Linked DNA regions of Homo sapiens. The protein of the gene in region 1 purifies or fractionates together with the protein of each later gene. This does not show direct contact. Each region holds a gene or a part of one and is shown on either strand. Other genes may lie near its edges.

Region 1 (3,826 bases):
TTGACAATGAAGTTCCTACTTCTGATCTGAGACTTCAAAATCACTTTCAGTCAAAAACTGAGGTGGCCCCGGGTTGCCGGCCAAGCCACTAGTGGCACTTGTGGCTCGAAGGCCGTAGTGGCAAAAAAAAAAAAAAAAAAAACCTTTGAGGAAATTCCTGTCCGGATTTTGGCCTTTGATCTCCCTCTAGCCCAAAAGAAAGGTAAAGAAGAAGAAAAACAAATCAGAGAAGCATAATTTGCTAGCTACCTTTTCCAATTAAAAAGGTAATCAATGACCTGTTTATGAAATCGTTCCAAGCTTTTTTTGAATATTAAATAACAAAATGCTTAGAGCATATGATACACATTCAATAGTTACTATTTTAATTCCAATAATATTACATCCTTTTTCTCCTACCTTAGTATTTCCTATATCTTCATACAATTGACACTAAAACAAGTTTCCAGCATTAACAAGAAATCAATGGAGATGCATGCAACACATACAGAACAGAAAAGTGAATTACCTTGACTAGGGAAATCTGAAGATTAATGGTCTTTCCATTCTTGAGGAGATTCTGCAATTTTCTGCTATGTAAAATGTTATCTATATAGATCCAAAGCCTTTCAACAATATCTTCCTTCAGTTCAAGCTTTTTCTTATAAAATGCAACCAATGATTGTCTTGCCCAATCAAGTAACACCTGAATTTGAAGGACACATACACTGAAAATAAATTTATTTGCTGAGAGAAAGATGTTAGACATTATAGGGACATTACAGGTATAAGCAAATCCAATTGCCACGGGGGCGGCGGGGGAGAACCTCTCTTTTACAACTTACCTTTGATAATATTACTTACGTGTTCTGGTATTTTAAAATGTTTATTATTAAAGGATAAGAACAGGAAAACAACAAATTTGTCTTCAGCTAGGGCAAATTAAAAGTTTCAGGTGAAACTAACACGTCTTAACCCGTTTTTTGAGGTTATACAGGCATACCTCATTTTATTGTGCCTTGTAGATACAGATATTGCATTTACAAATTGGAGGTTTATGGCAACCCTGTGCCAAGCAAGTCTATCAGATCCTTTATTCCAACAGCATGTGCTTGCTTCATGTCTCTGCCACATTTTGGTAATTCTCCCAGTATTTCCAACTTTTCCATTCTTATATTTGTTAAGGTACTCTGTGACCAGTGATCACTGATGTTACTATTCTAATTGTTTTGGGGCACCATGAACCGTGTCCTTGTAAGTCAGCAAGCCTAATCAATAAATGTTCTATGCATCCTGACTGCTCCACCAAAATGCTATTACCCTGACGGGCTATTTTCCCCTCTCTCCTTCTCCTCTGGCTTTCCTATTCCTTGAGACGCAATAATATTGCAATTAGGCCAGCTAACCCTACAATGGCCTCCAGGTGTTCAAGTGGAAGGACTAGCTGCATGTCTCTTTAAATCCAAAGCTAAAAATAATTAAGCTTAGTGAGGAAGGCATGCTGAAAGGTGAGATAGACCAAAACCAAGCCTCTTGAGCCAATTAACCAAATCGTGAATGCAAAGGAAAAGTTCTTGAAGGAAATTAAAAGTGTTACTCCAGTGAACAACAAATGATAGAAAGTGAAACCGCCTATTGCTGATATGGAGAAAGTTTTAGTGGTCTGGATAGAAGATCAAACCAATCACAGCATTCCCTTAAGCCAAAGCTTAATCCAGAGCAAGGCCCTAACTCTCTTCAATTCTATGAAGGCTGAGAGAAGTAAGGAGGCTGCGGAGGAAAAGCTAGAAGCTACCAGAGGTTGGTTCATGAAGTTTAGGGAAAGAAGCCATCTTCATAACATAAAAGTTCCAGGTGAAGTTATGTAGAAGGTCGAGCTAAAATCACTGATGAAGTTGGCTAAACTAAACAACAGATTTTCAGAGTAGAAGAAACAGCCTTCTATTGGAAGATGCCATTCAGGACTTTCTTTTTTTTTTTTTTTTTTTTTTTGAGACGGAGTTTCGCTCTTGTCACCCAGGCTGGAGTGGAATGGCGCGATCTCGGCTCACTGCAACCTCCACCTCCCAGGTTTAAGCGATTCTTCTGCCTCAGCCTCCTGAGTAGCTGGGATTACAGGTGCCCGCCACCATGCCTGGCTAATTTTTTTTTATTTTTAGGGGTTTCGCCATGTTGGCTAGACTGGTCTCGAACGCCTGGCCTCAGGTGATCCACCTGCGTTGGCCTCCCAAAGTGCTGGGATTACAGGCGTGAGCCACTGTGCCCAGCTACCATCTAGGACTTTCATAGCTAGAGAAGAGAAGTCAATGCCTGGCTTCAAAGCTTCAAAGGACAGGCTGACTCTCTTATTAAGGTCTAATGCAGCTGGTAACTTTGACGCCAGTGCTCATTTACCATCCCCAAAATCACAGGGCCCTTAAGAATTATGCTAAATCTACTCTGTTTGTGCTCTGTCAATGGAAAAACAAAGCCTGAATGACAGCATATCCGTTTACAGCATGGTTTACTGAAGATTTTAAGCTCATGTCAAGACTGATCAGAACAAAAAGATTCCTATAAGAAGATTACTGCTCTTGGGTGACCAAGAGCTCCGATGGAGATGTACAAGGAGATGAATGTTGTTTTCATGACTGCTAACACAACATCCATTCTGCAACCCATGATCAAGGAGTACTTTTGACTTTCAAGTCTTATTATTTAAGAAACACATTTCCTAATGCTATAGGTGCCATAGTGATTTCTCTGACGGATGTGGAGAAAGTCAAACTGAAGATCTTCTGGAAAGAATCACCACTCTAGATGCCAGTAAAAATATTCCTGAATCATGGAAAGAGGTCAAAATATCAACATTATCAGGAGTTTGGAAGAAGCTGATTCCAGTCCTCATGGATGACTTTGAAGGGCTCAAGACTGAAGTGGAGGAAGCAACTGCATATATAATGGAAATAGCCAGGGAACTAGAATTAGAAGTGGAGCCTGAAGATGGGACTAATAAAACTTGAATGGATAAGTTGTTTCTTAGAGATAAGCAAAGAAAGTGGTTTCTTGAGATGGAATCTACTCCTGGTGAAGATGCTGTGAACATTGCTGAAATGACAACAAAGGATTGAGAATAGAACTTAAACTTAGTTGATAAAGCAGTGGCAGGTTTTGAGAAGTCCAATTTAGAAAGAAGTTCTACTGTGGGTAAAATGCTGTGTCTTTCATGAAAGGAAAAGCTCCATCAATGCAGCAAACTTCACTGTTGTCTTATTTTAAGAAGTTGCCAGTCACCCTAACCTTCAGCAATCACTACCCAGATCATCAACATTAAGGCAAGACCCTCCAGCATGATGACTCCCTAAAGGCTCAGATAACCAATAACCACTAGCATTTTTGGGCAATTTTTTAAAATTAAGATATGTACTTTTTTTAGGCATAATGCTATTGCATTCTTAACAAACCACAGTATAGTATAAACATAAATTTTATATGCACTAGGAAACCAAAAAATTTCTGTGACTCACAATATTGTGATCTATTTCAGTGACGTGGAACCAAACCTGCAGTATCTCTGAGATATGCATGTACCAAGTTCTAAAAGTTAGAAATACAAAGACTGCTCAGAATGACCACAGAATGTATCAGACACACGAAGCAAAAAAGTAAGTTAAGAGTTGAAAGTCTGGGATTTGTGTCCTGGCTTCCCCCACATTACCTACAGCTTAACCTCTAATACTACTAATATTTATACATCATCTGGGAGACAGACACAGTTGATATGAAATCATACAAGTGCTTTATGAAAAGGAGGACTGTGCCTATCTATACAGGTTCCATTACGTGTCATGTTTCCTCTTCACAAAAC
Region 2 (3,826 bases), on another chromosome or scaffold:
AAAAATTTATCATCTATTTGCTGCATGAGTTTGGAGAGCTGTAAATTCAAATAGGTAGGAATCTGTCCTCAGAACTCTGAAGGCATTGATCCACCATCTTTTGTCATCCAGATTTGCTAATGAGTCTAACACAACTGTAAATCTGTTCCTAAGTGATTTTTTTTTTCCGGACACTTGCAGGATTTTCTATTTACTCTGAAACTTCACAGTGCTATGCCTTGATGTGGATCTTTTTCATTCATTACACTTGACACTCTGCTGTGCCTTTCAATCTAAAGATTGAAGTTCTGGAATAGCCACTATATTAGTCCATTTTCACACTCTATAAATAACTGCCCAAGACTGGGTAATTTATAAAGGAAAGTGTTTAATTGACTGAAGAGTTCAGCATGGCCAGGGAGGCCTCAAGAAACTTACAATCATGGGGGAACGCAAAGGGGAAGCAAAGCACCTTCTTCACAAGGCTTCAGGAGAAAGAGTGAGGAGTTAAAGGGGCAGAGCCCTTTATAAAACCATCAGATCTTGTGAGAACTCACCCACTATCAGGAGAACATCGTAGGGGAAACCACCCCCATGATCCAATCACCTCCCACCAGGTCTCTCCCTAGACACATGGGGATTATGGGGATTACAATTCGAGATGAAATTTGGGTGAGGACACAGACAAACCATACCAGCCATTTATGTTATTTCTAATAACCCACTGCCCCCATTTCTTTTTTAACTTTTTTCACTTTCTAAAACTGTTAGTCTGGTTTTGACCCCTGTATTTATCTTCTGTGGCTTTCATCTTTTCTCTTTGTCTCTTTCAGTTCTACTTTCAGGAATATTTTCTCACCTACATCTTCCAACACTATTAATTACTTTTGAATTTTAAATATTTTTAATTTTAAAAAGCCCTATTGTTTTAATAGTTTCACTTCCAATTGTTTTATGAATGCGATTTCTCCAGATATCTTTCAAACTAATTTTTTTATTCACTAGATAGCACTGTCTTATATTTTAAAGATTCTGAAAAACACAATTTTTAACGCTTATGTAGTCCGCCATCAAAACATCAATGTACTGAAGATTTTAAGCAGCATGAGGCACCATCACGTTTTTGTTTCTTCCCCCTCATTTCCCCGCCCCTACCAGATCTGTTTTTGATGTTTAGCCTAGAAGTAGCAAGAAGGATGAACTGAAGCAGATTAGAGATCGAGCTGGTAATCCAGATGAGAAATAATGAAAGTCTTCTCTAGGGTAATAGTGGTGAGGTAAAGGCAAAAGGATAGCTGACAGACGTTAGGAGGTGAAATGGCACAGGACTTGGTGAAAAACTGGTTAGGAGAAGAGGAAAGAGAAAAGCCCAGGTTATCCTCAGATTTATGGTTTGGACAACAGGAAGAATAGCAATTTCTCCAAGTCGAGTCCTATTATAAATATTTTCATTTTTGTATTTCACTTTGAGTCTCAATTTACCAAGATAACTTCCTTTCAATCAGCAAAACACCTGTTTACTACTTACTAACAATATTAAAGATGCAAATATTTACGAAACATATTTTTCTCACTTTACATAGATGCCTATCATTTCATTTGTAAAAAAGGTTAATTCTATTTACTCATTAAAATACTTACATTTAAATACTCCAGCATAATACATTAGGTGTATTAAACATATAGATGCTCCTCAGATGAAGAATATAGTCTAATCTGGTTTTATACACAATAAAGACAATTTAAAATGTAAAAAACTGGGCTTAAAAAATGCAGCCAACCACCTGTTTTATTAAGTTTTACCAAGTATTTCCTTCTAAAAAGTCCTTATCGGAGCTATTTCTTTAAAGCCAACATTTACTACATTAACAGATGGGTTCTTTAAATAAGAAATTTTACTTTCAACTCACTGATTTTATACTTAGAGGCTTTAAAATTTTTTAGAATATGTGAAGACCGGAATTAAACCATTCTCACCATATTTTTCCAGGACTGTTTGCTAACTGGCTTGTTTTTACATAAAGCTTTAAACATGTCTACCATGGGTAGTAAACAAGAAGGACTATTTGAAACTATAAAACCTACCAAACAAAGTGCCAAATGCATTATCACTGCTTTTTCCTTCTTTTATAAGAATCATTACTATGAACTCGTACTCGTTGGTGCACAGAGGATGCTATTTTCATACTCTCTTTCTTTGTAAAGGTCTTCTCTATAGCTCCAGGTTTCCAAAGTAACAACTGTGCATCTTCTCCTCCAGTCAACAAAGAATCATCTTGCACATTCCAACAGAAAGAACGGACTGTAGCAGCATGCCCTCCCTGAAGGCTAGTCACATGGGTCAGTCCTGACATGCTGCAGTTCATCAAATGAATCCTTCCTTTGTTTGTTCCTCCAATAACATGCAATGTGTCTGTCTTTTCATGATATAGGCCACCAATCAAATAGTCCAAAGCATCTTCTTTCATGTTAACTACTTCTCTGACATCCTGGATGTTCAAACGTGTAACTGGTTCATCAGTGTCCAGATGATTAAGATCCCACCAATAAAATCCTTCATCATGTGTCATGCAGTAAATCTGTTTATAACCTTTCCCAGACCAACCAATACAGCTTACTGATGAAATTGAGTTACAGGTTGTAACCAGTGCATCCTCCTCATTATCAATATTAATATCAAATACATTTACCAGGCCATCAGATGAACCTGAGACTACCATGTTGGGATTGCTGGGATGGAAACGTACTTGAGTGACATCATCACTATGTGTCTCTGAATATGCACCAAGTGAGTCTTTAGTTGTAGATAAATTCTGAGAATTCATCCTTGCATCCCAAAACACCAACAATGCATCATCATCAACTTTTTCTGTACCAGCACAAATAATATGATCATTACAATTAATATCAAAACTGATAAAAATATTGGAAGGGTAACCCTTGAAGAGCTGAACAGGTTTTTCTCTGGCTACTCGAGCATCCCAGCATTTCACAGTGCCATCAGTACATGCTGAATATACACTGTCACAGGAATTTGCAAATCTGACTCCATTAAGAAGTCCAGGATATCCACTAAATTCTCGTAGTACATTTAACCTTTCTTTATCATATATTCTGATTGATCCATTAGAACATAAAACAGCAACCAAGTTTTCCTTTCCTGCTTGGACAGTCTTTGATGTGTCTATACCAAGAAGGTAAGTGGGCTCTTTGGTTCCTAAGGAACATTTAACAATGTGCAGATTAGCAAATTGTTCCTCAATCTTTTCCATGTCAACAGCAGCATCCAAGGGTAGTAAAACTCTGTAAAAAATAATAATAATAAAAATAAAAATTAATGCTTAACAAGGGAGACACATAAAAAAATTTAACTTGAAGTTTCTCTAAAATTGCAATTAAATCAAGAACATTTTCCTCTGAGGGCTGGCATGAATCAATCAATCAACAGAAATGTATTCTAATACTATAATCATTTCCTTCCTATGATGTAACTAAAACTCAGTTGCCTTCTAATTCAATCACTCTTTAATACTGAATTCACTACCAGGAGTGGTGGCTCACACCTGTAATCTCAGCACTTTGGGAGGCTGAGGTAGGAGGACTGCTTGAGGCCAGGCATTAGAGACCAGCCTGAGCAACATGGGGAGACCCCCCCGCCGTCTCTTCAAAAAATAAATTAGCAGGGCATGGTGGCCTATGCCTGTAGTCCTAGCTACTCAGGAGGCTGAGGTAGGAGGACTGCTTGAGACCAGAAGTTGAGACTACAGTGATCCATGATCATGTCACTGTCATACAGCCTGGGGAATAAAGTGAGATCCTGCCTCAAAAAAGAAAAAAAAAATGCTGA

Evidence for each region.
Region 2: the proteins of URB2 (region 1) and WDR89 purify together in Homo sapiens (affinity purification with mass spectrometry; one large-scale study listed by BioGRID and IntAct). This does not show direct contact.

Annotation. Positions count from the first base shown.
Region 1 is NC_000001.11:229,629,128-229,632,953, reverse strand, and holds part of URB2 (unhealthy ribosome biogenesis protein 2 homolog), read right to left. Parts: intron 686-3,826; coding exon 509-685; intron 1-508. UniProt on the Homo sapiens protein: Essential for hematopietic stem cell development through the regulation of p53/TP53 pathway.
Region 2 is NC_000014.9:63,596,692-63,600,517, forward strand, and holds the end of WDR89 (WD repeat-containing protein 89), read right to left. Parts: intron 3,283-3,826; coding exon of another isoform or gene 3,252-3,282; coding exon 2,088-3,251; 3' UTR 348-2,087; downstream 1-347.